Homo sapiens: one gene and its partners. The protein of the gene in region 1 interacts with the protein of each later gene in a pairwise test. Each region holds a gene or a part of one and is shown on either strand. Other genes may lie near its edges. The genes, in order: FARS2, AP1B1 and MAN1C1.

Region 1 (3,794 bases):
TTGAATCCCAAGAATCCTTATAGAGGCCTTTTTCTGAGCACATAGAAATAGGAAAACAGATTTTTCCCCATCCATCTTCAATTGGCAATAACTTTTAGAGGTGCCATATTACCAGCTCTTCTGCTAGGAGGGACCAGAGTGAAACAGTGAAAAAACACAATGTGATAATAATTGCCACAATGATACTTTCACCTCACACCCAATTAGCACTTTATAATTTGCAGAGTCCTGTCAATTTCTAAACAGGCCCTGATTTCTCCATATCTTCTCCAATACTTGTTATTTTCCTTTTGTTTTTAAAATGAGCATCCTAATGGGCCTGAAGTGGTATCTCATGGTGGTTTTGATTTGCATTTCCCTGATGGCTGAAGTTGAACATTTTTTCATGTGCTTGTTGGCCATTTGTTTATCTTTGCAGAAATGTCTATTCAGATCTTTGGTACATTTGTTTTACTATGTTGTTGGCTATTTTATCGTTGAGTTGTAAGAGTTCTTTGTATATTCTAGATACAAATCCCTTATCAGGTATATGACTTGCAAATATCTTCTCCCATTCTGTGTGTTCCTTTTTGACTTTCTTGATTGTATGCCTTGAATTAAAAAAAATGCCTAATTTTGATGAATTCCAAGTTTATCATTTTTTTTAATTTTTTCACCTGTGCTTTTGGTGTCATCTAAGGAGGTTTTGCCTATGCGGTCATGAATATTTACTCATCTGTTTTCTTCTAAGAGTGATAATAGTTTCAGCTCTTATATTGAGATATATGATATATTTTGAGTTAGTTTGTGTGTGTGTGGTGTGAGGTAGGGATTCAGCTTCATTCTTTTGCATGTGGATATCCAGTTGTCTCAGTATCAATTGTTGAAAAGACATTTCCCCCTTGGATAGTCTTGGTGCTCTTGTCAAAAACCAAATAACTGTAAATGGAGCAATTGTAGTTTGAATGGAATGGGTCAGCACTTGGTGGCAGCAGGGGTCTTGGCTATGTAGTTTCATAAGCTCCCACTCCTGGAGAGCCTCTGTTTTCCTCTCAAAGCCAGGTTTTTCTGTCTCGCTGCGTTTTGGTGCCTGAAAGGCTTGGGTGGGCATGGTACCTGGAGTACTGTTGTTCGGAGCACAAAGTGAGGAGAAAAGACCACTCTACTTTGTGGGAGGTCCTTGGGGCAGTTTGGGCAGCAGTGCCTCCCCCAGGAGTCAGGGTCCCCACCCCAGAGGAATGTCCACAGAGCAGAGCCATTGGCCTGAGCTGGACTGAAAAAGAAAGAGCCAGGTGGGGAGAGGATTTGATTTCTCCCTTGGTCTAAAGCAGGCAGCTGACATTGGGTGAGGGAATGGGGCAGGCCTCCATGTGCTATCGGGAATCCCCAGGAGGTCCCTACAGAAAACTTCCACCCCCAGCCCAGCTTGTTTATCACAGCCCTTCAGTGGTAACTTCCTCCTGTGGCTTGATCCAAACGGGGGCTGCATATGTGGCCAAAATGCACATAACCCTGTGAGGCACAGCATAGCAGCTTATCTTCCCTGAAAGTGGAAGGACAAAAGCAGGACAAAGATGACCAAGCCAGGGTGGGAGAGAGGGGAGGAGACACTGGAAGGGGAGGTGAAGGGGCAGACTAGGGAGGCCAGGACCAAGGCAGACTCTCATGCACCAGGCATATTCTGCCCAGCCAAGGGCTCTGGCATTCAGATGAGGGAGAGGGAGAGGAAAGAGGAGAGAATCCAGTGAGACCAATCCATGAAGTGTCGGGAGGACCCTGGAAGCAAAGGCTCTGGACTCAGGTGGCATCAATGGGACTACCAGTTTCCAGTGAATATGTGGGAGTGGCCTAGGTCCAGCTCAATCAGAAGCCCATTTGTTCAAGGCCCTGGTATTACTGAAGGCCCAGCCCTGTCTCACCTGCCAGAAAGCACGTGGCCTCTCCCTGGCTAGGCTAAGGGCTGGTTGACGGCATCATAAAAGGAATCTGCCTGGGAGCCCTCAATTTGTTTCAGTTTCCTCCCCCAAGGCCAAGAAGGGATTGGGTTGCCTCTGTTGTTGTTGCTGCTGCTGCTGCTGCTGCTGCTGCTGGGGGTTGGAAAAGAGGAATTTGTGTGACCAGATCCCCTTATTGTATAGAAGAAGAGAAATGTGAGCATTCAGAGATGGTGAGATGTCAGACACCCAGCCACACAGCCAGTGAGAGACATGTTGGGGACAGGGCCAGGCCTGCCAGTTCATGGCCCAGGGGTCTTTCTCATGAGATCAACTGACCAGTGTGTCTTAGCACCTGCCATGCAAATAGAAGGCCCTACTGCTGTCATCTCCACGTATTCCAGAATTACTCAGCTGTTCTATGCAAGCCAAGTCAACACCAATGTCATAAAGGAGAGACTAAAGTAATTCTCTACACAGCACATACACGGCATATATGGCCTGTATGCTTCCTGGACAGCCAACAGGGGTGCCGAGGGAGTGAGTCCCTCAGCCTTGCCTGGAGCCTTGCTGATACTTCAGTTTGCCTCACAAACACGGTTACCTTCCATGACATGAAGGAGGCACACGCGGGTTGACCCCTGACCCTGTCTGCTTGTTAGAATCACGTCGGGAACCGGGGACAGGCTTAGAAGCCCAGGTCCCACCTCCCACCTGCTGAATCCAAATCTCCAGAGCGTGGCCTGGGAAATCAAATTTGTCAGCTTCCTTCCCAGGGGACTTTGATACATCCACCCCAGTGGAAACCAGCAGCCTCCTTTAGTCAAGCGAATGTTTCCCTGACTGTCACCTTCTCCCCCTGTATAAGATGCAGATTGTTAGCGGTAAATGGTACCTGGATTCCAACCTCAGTTCTCCACTGCAGTTGGGGAGATCTGGCCAGGGCAAGCCACACTGCTCCTTCAGGCACAGCCTTGTTCATCCCGCACTCACCTGTGTTCTCTTCCTCTCTGTAGGACGCACAAGACCAGCCACTGCTACCGCATCACGTACCGCCACATGGAACGGACTCTGTCCCAGAGAGAGGTCAGGCACATCCACCAGGCCTTGCAGGAGGCTGCAGTCCAGCTGTTGGGTGTGGAGGGCAGGTTCTGATGTCACCACTTCACTCAGGCTGCAGCCCTCTTGGGGCTCCAGGATTTGCTGAAAGAGAAAAAGATATGGTTTGTGAACTGGGGCATCAATCATCTTTTGATAAATGGATCAGTTTTAGGACTTTCAGAAAATAAAAGATCGCTCTTGAAAAGCTGTTGACATAGCATTTGTCTTTTATTTGGGGAAAGGAGGAAGGTCTTTTCCTATTCCTTTTAGAAGTGCTTTGCCCACTGGCATTGGTGCTTAGTATGGTTAATTGGTCCCTGGGTTCCATTAAGCACCAGGCATGATTTCTTGCCTGACAGGCTCTTCCACTCAGGTAATGAGTGAAGCCACACAGAGGGACATCAGAAATTCCAGATACAATACAGGAAGCTTTTTGAATCAGCTTCCATTCCTTCCTCCCTTCTCTTCTTTTTCAGTTTTGCAAAGGGCAGGCTTCAAAGAGGGCACTAATGAAATGCCAGGGCTCTCGTCCAATGTGAAGGGAGGTGCGTCTTTCAGCCAGGGCAGGATATCTATTTGCTTTTCATAAACCCATGGCTTGGAGTCAGGCCTCTGGCCCCAGGACTTGGGCTTAGCTGCCTTCTGCCCCACTGGAGAGGAAGGAAAGGGGCGAGAGCTGCCCCAGAGTCTTGGAGGCACACAGAGGGGCCAGGTCCTCAAACTCCCTTCAAGTTTTCCCAGCAGGCAGCCTCCACTTCCAGAAGGCGACCTTTAGGGAAG
Region 2 (3,500 bases), on another chromosome or scaffold:
TGGCTGAGCAGTGAGCTGCTGCTCCCAGGGCACGTGGTATGGTAGTGGGGGGTAGGCGAGAGCAGAAAAACCATTGAGCAGTGCTGGATCGGAGGGGTTCATGGCATGATCCCCTTCTTCCTCTGAAGTGGCTCTGAGTGGCAGAGCCCTGCAGCTCTGGGGAGGGGGATTGACCTTGAGTTCTCCTCACAGCTTTTGGTCAAATGGCTCAGTCAGCAGTGGGGACTTGACAGTAGCAACCATTGATCATTCGTGGGGACTTGACAGTAGCAACCATTGATCATTCGTATGTTACAGCAGGCCCTGTGGCTGGGAGTGGGGCTACACAGAGAACTGGGGCCTCATTAGTCATTTTCTCTTGGAAGACAGCACATCCTCCTGGTTGTAGCTTCAGTCTGGGTCTTAGTACTCTCCCGGGGGACCCAGAGATATTGGTCGAATTGGGTTATTAGGGAGGTAAATATGGGAAAGCCTTCTGAGTTCCTAAACCAAGGGATGAAACTAGGGCTTCCTGGTTGCAGTGTGGGTCTTTATACGCCAGTGCCCTTGGGTCACGGATTTAATGCGGCGTAGTGACTAGTAGAGCAGATCAGCGTGCAGGATTCCCTGTGCTATATTTAACATAGTAAATCTCTTAAGAATTTGTCCACGTCACTGAGACATGCCCTGCCCTGGTCCTGAGATGTGGCTGGGCAGCTTTTGCCAAGTCCTAATCGCAGAAATATCTTCCTGCTACCCAGCTCGGGGTCTTGCCTCTCCCATGGGGCACGACAAAGGCTCCTTGCTTGGCCAGGACCTCCCCGCAGTGTGCACAGCAGCACAGAGTACCCAGTTTTCTCCTTTCTCTCTGTCCTGTCTTCTCCCTTCCTCACCATCTGTCCTCGTATCTTTTCCTTCCTCCTCTCTGTTCTGGAAGGGCATAGGAGTAGGAGTCAGAGGCAGAGGATTCTCGCCCCACTCTCGTCTTTACTGACATTAGCCATGTGACCTAGTACCAGCCTCTCACCCTCTCTGAAGTTTCCTTGTTCAGGAAAAATGTGGTGGGTGATACTCGCGGAAGGCAGAAGGATGTTGCCTTTGAGGGAGGAACAATGACACATGTGAAAGGGCTCAGCTAGTGACAGCTCCTGCCTAGCGGTGCCTTCTCTGAGGCAGGCATCGATCATGCTGGATGCTTCTCGTCTCACTCTCACAGCAGGCCGATTAGGTCGGTGTCCATGTTGGGGTCCCAAGACCACCCTCATGCTCAGGTTTCACTAGCAGTACTCACAGGACTCAGCATATATTTTTTAAATATATATATTTTTTGAGACAGGGTCTCACTCTGTTGCCGAGGCTCGTCTTGAACTCCTGGACTCAAGCAATCCTCCTGCCCCAGCCTCCCAAAGTGTTGGGATGACAGGCATGAGCTGCTGTGCCCAGCCAGGACTCAGCATATAGCTATACCCACAGCAAAGATCTATCAGCAGCAGAGCAGGGCTGCCCGGCTGGGTCATAGGGGAGAAGGACACAGGTGGAGTCTGGAGGGTTCCATGAGAGGCTTCCTTGTACCTCCTCCTTCCCATGGGGAGTCATACAGAGCACACTCCTCCCCCAACAAAATGCAGCAACATGTATGTAATGTTTCTGCCCAGGAAAGCCTATTTGAGACTTCGGCACCCAAGTTTGTTATTGGGGGCACCTACACAAATTCCATATTCCCAGTAGGGAAGCATGTGTTCAGCATAAACTGTATTCTTTGTACAAATGGTCTAGGTACAGTTAAATACCTTTATCATTTAGGGAACAGTGAGAACACTTCAAAATCCAAGTTGCCACGTGCCAGGCCTTCTGAGGCTAGCAGTCCCAGACCTGCAGTAGTAACATGTTTCTGTACAGCGTCATTCCCATTTCATGGGTGAGGAAACAGGCCTGAGGTCACAGGCTGGGACTGGGACTGAGATATGTCTGATTCCCAAGCCCGTCCCATGGGGCCTGCTGCCTCTGGAGAGTGAGTGAGCCGTCTCTCACTGCCCTCCGTCTCCCTTCCGGCGACGTGCTCAGGCACACAGGAGCAGTCACAGCCTTGCTCAGGCCGGTTGCTGGGCCCTCTACCCAGGAGCTTGCAGCCATGGCAGTGACTCTGCCTTCACAGACATCAGGCTCCACCTCAGACCCCAGAAATGTCCCAGCAAATGTGGAGGGCATTTTCTCACAGGGCTTAAGCCTTGTTTTTTGCTCTCCGGGCATCCTGCCCCACCACCAGGCCTGAGATCCTGAAGCATGAGATGAAGGTGTTCTTCGTGAAGTACAACGACCCTATCTACGTGAAGCTGGAGAAGCTGGACATCATGATCCGCCTGGCCTCTCAGGCCAACATCGCCCAGGTCAGCTGCGTGTGATGGTCAGGACACGGGCTCAGTGTGGGACCATTCCACCACCACCAGACTGTAGGCTCTGGCCCAGGTGACCAGTCTCACCATTAACGGTTTATCTCATGAAGAGTGTTTAGCATGGGACATGGGGCTTCGTAAGCAAGTAAAAGAACTGATGTTTTTATTACTAAAGAATGTTTCTCCATGTTATCACCTGTCATCCCTTACAACGTGGTGTTGGATATGTTAGCTAAATCAACCCCAAACAAGGTTGTCCAGGCCTTCTTTCCTTTTCAGGCACCTGCCAGCTCTCTCCCTTGGGCCTTCTACCTGGAGCAGGAGGCAGAATCCCATTCTCCTAGGGAGTCTGTGTATATTCACTGCCCAGGAGTGTTCCAGCAGATTGCCCCATCAGGTGCCCCAGCCCCATCTTTTCTGTTTGGGCCACAGGTGTTGGCAGAGCTGAAAGAGTACGCAACAGAAGTGGATGTGGACTTTGTACGGAAGGCTGTGCGTGCTATTGGCCGCTGCGCCATCAAGGTGGAGGTGAGGCTCTGGGACTCTGTCCTTGGCTGGAGAAGGAAAAGGGGGCTGAAACCGGGAAACCAGTCTGATTCAAGCAGAATCTGCCAGCTTGCTTGTGGTCTGGGAAGGCCTGAGGCTCATCACTGGAGCCCCCATGGCAAGCATTGTGCAGATCTGGTGGGGTTCCTTCTCACTCTATAGTATCCTTTAGGCCTTCGAGTTGCTGCCGATCAAATTAACCCATCATAATCATGGTTCTCCTGCAGCATTTGTTAAGATGCTGGGGCAGCCACAAGTTAATGGACTTAGCATTCACTTCACAGAGCTCTGGGGTAAGGGCCCTGCCTGTTGAACACTTCTTGGCAAATATTGTCATCATTCAGCTGCCCACGTGCCTCTGTGTCCCAGCGTCCCAGGGCCACTCTAGACTCCTGTGTCCTGGCATTTTATCCCCGTCCTTTCTCTGTCTGTGGAGATGTTCCTCGACCACTAAGCCAGATTCTCCTTAAATGGGTCCACTGGTGGCTACAGTGTCCTAGGATAGGTGGTCGCCCCCGACCTATCCCCTTGAGGCGTGCTCACCCTGGAGCCTATGATGCCGTCCTGAGAAATCTCCTTCAG
Region 3 (3,723 bases), on another chromosome or scaffold:
TAAGCAGGCAGATGATATGATCCGGTTTGTTAATTGCAGAGTACAGAGACCCCCTGGAGAGTAGATTGGAGGGGTGAAAGTGGAGGCAGAGGCCTGGAAGGGCCCCAGAGGACCCCAGCCATGGGCCAGGCCCCACCAGCCCATGGAGTCTGGCCTCGAGACTGTGTGAGCAGCTTCCTCCCTCCCCTTGGTCCCCAGGGCTCCTGGGGTGAGAGCAGTCTGACCCCCTCACGCCCCCGACATCCCAGAGTCTTTACAACAGCATCACCTCCCTTCCCACCAAAAGGCATGGCCATCAGGTAGTGGAAGAAGCAGAGCTCTGGACATTGTGGGGTCTTGTTTCTAGGCTGGTGTGGCTGGGTGGCCTGGGACAAGCTGCCACACCTCCCATTTGTCTGTGTAGGGCGCGGCAGCCCAGGTGCCTGGCTTGCTGTAGGCATTAAATGAGGAAACGTGTGACAAGATACTCCTAGAGAACAGCTCTTAATTTTCTGCAGGTTCTTTTTGAGAAACTGGTAAGAATAGATGGACACTCTTCCCATAAAGATGCACATCCACCAGAAAGTGTTGGGTACAGTTTTAAGGGCCTGGACCCCTGAAGCCCATCCACAGGCCAGCTGGGCTTCTGGTTAAGATCAAACAGAGGACATAATGGAGGAGGAGGATCACCTTAAAATATTTTTTAACGTTTTTTAAAACATGGAAGATTTTAAAGGCTGTGTAAGAGACTTGCCCTGGGGAGCTGCCCTGTGTCTGAGCCTCCCAGCGAATAGCAGCCCCTCCTGTGCCCTGGCAGGCATCTTGACCAGCAGAGATCAATGGGCCTCCTTTGCCTGGGATGGAGGGCTTGGCAGAGCTGCCCTTGCTACTGTCTCCAAAATGTTCATTTTCCATCCTTTCCCCCCCTTCTCTGTGCCCTCCCACGCCCCTTCTCCCTGCCCAATCCCCACCTTGCTCCCAGGCGATAGAGACCTACTTGCTGAATGTCTCTCCCGGGGGGCTGACCTACATTGCCGAGTGGCGAGGGGGGATTCTGGACCACAAGATGGGGCACCTGGCCTGTTTCTCCGGGGGCATGATCGCCCTTGGCGCCGAGGATGCCAAGGAAGAAAAGAGGGCCCACTACCGAGAGCTCGCAGCCCAGATCACCAAGACGTGTCACGAGTCATACGCCCGCTCAGGTAACCCTGCAAGGGGAAGGGGCAGCAGGAGAGACTGAGGCTAGACACCAGGAAGAACTGGAAAGACCGGCAGCAGTGAGCGAAGGGAGCACATGGCCTTAGGGAAGCCTCCCCTTGGAAGTTAAGTAGAATTTGAGAGAGGTACTCTCCAGGCTCCGAGACCATACCCTGAATGAAAGGGAAACTAGTACAGACACAGGAAGCGCTTTGCATGTACCTGGTACTCTTCCGCACTTGACACAACATCACTGAACCTCACCACACAGATGAGGAAACTGAGGCTCAGAGATTACTTGGCCAAGGTCCCTTGAGAGGGGCACAGAGTAAAGGATCCTCCAGCCCCGGAGGCAGAAACGGCGGCTTCCTGAGCCCGGCACATGTCCCACCCTGAGTCTCCTACTTTCAAATGTGCCTCTGCCTTTCCCCCGGCACCCTCCTTAGAGGGGGTTTCACCGCCTCCTGCTCCCACCTGTTTAGTCGCCCTCTTTGACCCATGATCACCGGAAAGCCTGAGAGCTTGGTCCTCCCCACCCACCACTCACCACTGAATTGTCCGATGCTAGAATCAGAGGTCACATTTGAGAGCCTGAGCCTGGCTCCTCATTCTACACAGAGAAGTGGAGTCAGCCCAGAGAGGGGAAGTGACTTAGCCAAAGTCACACTGCACATGAGGAATTGATCCTGGGCTGGAACCCAGGCCTTCTGATGCCTGGTTCCACCCCGTGCGCAAACTGCACCCCTCAGAAAAATCCCCAGCCCCCGTGTGGTCCCAGGAGACGCCCACCGCTCTGAGTGGTAATCCCAGTGTTGGTTGGAGGGGACGACCCAAGATTTGCAGTAAAAATCCCAGGCTCAAGCAGCGCTTGACAAAATGACTGTTTTCTGATGGCCAGGAGCCGCTACACCATTTGAAAAGATTAGAGAGGCCAGATGGGCAGCCTCTGTTTTCTTATCTGTTCGATGGGAATCATGACACAGGTCTCAGAGTGAGGCACAGGGTCCCATGAGAAAGTACCTTGGCAGCCACCTTTGGCCAGCAGCACTGCAGGCACTTGCTGACCGCCCATCATGATGTGTCTGTGCCCGCCCCAGCTGAATGGGGTCTCCTGGAGCTGTTTCCAGGAAGTCAGAGATTCGCAATGGGTCTTTAAAACTGGTTGTCCATTCTCTTCAAAGAGCTTGCTCTGCCAGGGCCATAAACAAATAAGAAATCTCAGGACTAATAAAAGGCTCGCTATTTGTCTGAGACAATCAGCCCAGACCATAAAAGACAGCCGCTTAATAAAGCATATTGTTCTAGCCAGCCTCGGCTTGTCCTGTGGACGCCTGTAGCAGTGGCTCCTGCCTTCACCCCACTAGCGACTTGGCAAAATGACTGTTTTCTGATGGCCAGGAGCCGCTACACCATTTGAAAAGGTTAGAGAGGCTAGGGTCTAGCTAATTCCTCTTCCCTGAAGCCCTCCATGGAAGAGCAGGAAGTCCTGCAAACCTCTAACCCCTGCCTCTAAAGTAAAAGCAACCTAGGGCCTCTCAGGGTTTTGAACCCTGGTAGTAGGGAAGAGGGCTCACATTAGGAATGGAGCTGGGGACTTGGGTGACCTGGACAGGAGGGACAGGCATTAAAGGGAGAAGGATCTGGCCCTCATACCCTACATGTTGGGCCTATGAGGGTTAGACCCAGGAGGGAAAGAGCACCGCCCTAGGAGAGGCATCAGACACATCCAGGGTCAAGTCCCAACTCAGCCACAACTCGCTGTGTTACCTTGGGCAAATTACTTAGCCTCTCTGATCCTCAGTTTCCACATGCGTGAGAGGGATAGTAGCAATTACCTTACTAAAGAAACATTTTTTAAGGATAGAAATAGTGTATTAAAGCACCCAGCACGGCCTTTGAAATCATAAATAGTGGCTACAGAGGTGGTTATAATTATGGCCATATGACAAGAATGACAGCAAATTGCCTCAAAACCAAACAGTGACAATGACAGAACCCAGGCTCCCTCAGGCCCTCCTTCCTCAGCTCCCTCTGTGGGAGTAGGTGCATTCCTGGGCAATCTTCCCTCCATCTCTACCTCAGCTGTTCCCAAACTCTCGAAGTTTGTTCTGGGAGGTGTTAAAAGCAGTTTTCTAAGACAAAGGGTCCCAAGGAGAAGCCTCATTTCACATTAGCATATTAAAGGATCTGATAAATCCTGCAGATGGGAGACTTATTTTGTTTAACCCTCGGTTCCCCAGATGTGTTGAAACCCGAAACCCTCTTGGCTGAGGTCTGGCTAACCTCTTGCAGAGCTATTGCCTCAAAGTACACAGTTGTGGAACCCCGCCCAAACCTTCACCTACCCAGACTGCTGAGTAGCTCATTTGGACTCTCAGAGTCCAAAGCTGCTCACATTTCCAGTCCCCGAGGGTCTTGTTCTGTCCAGCCCAGGCCAAGAGGGAAGCTGTGCATCTGCCCGGTGCAGCCTTACACAGCAGTCCAGGCAGGGGCACCCCACACCCACACACACCTGACATCACCCTGGCCGCGGGTTCAAGGCAACTG

Evidence for each region.
Region 2: the proteins of FARS2 (region 1) and AP1B1 interact in binary tests that used the Homo sapiens proteins (3 or more experiments, as listed by UniProt).
Region 3: the proteins of FARS2 (region 1) and MAN1C1 interact in binary tests that used the Homo sapiens proteins (3 or more experiments, as listed by UniProt).

The regions. Positions count from the first base shown.
Region 1 is NC_000006.12:5,768,362-5,772,155, forward strand, and holds the end of FARS2 (phenylalanine--tRNA ligase, mitochondrial), read left to right. Parts: intron 1-2,929; coding exon 2,930-3,068; 3' UTR 3,069-3,222; downstream 3,223-3,794. UniProt on the Homo sapiens protein: Is responsible for the charging of tRNA(Phe) with phenylalanine in mitochondrial translation.
Region 2 is NC_000022.11:29,350,571-29,354,070, reverse strand, and holds part of AP1B1 (AP-1 complex subunit beta-1), read left to right. Parts: intron 1-2,245; coding exon 2,246-2,366; intron 2,367-2,804; coding exon 2,805-2,900; intron 2,901-3,500. UniProt on the Homo sapiens protein: Subunit of clathrin-associated adaptor protein complex 1 that plays a role in protein sorting in the late-Golgi/trans-Golgi network (TGN) and/or endosomes.
Region 3 is NC_000001.11:25,777,144-25,780,866, forward strand, and holds part of MAN1C1 (mannosyl-oligosaccharide 1,2-alpha-mannosidase IC), read left to right. Parts: intron 1-961; coding exon 962-1,181; intron 1,182-3,723. UniProt on the Homo sapiens protein: Involved in the maturation of Asn-linked oligosaccharides. Trim alpha-1,2-linked mannose residues from Man(9)GlcNAc(2) to produce first Man(8)GlcNAc(2) then Man(6)GlcNAc and a small amount of Man(5)GlcNAc.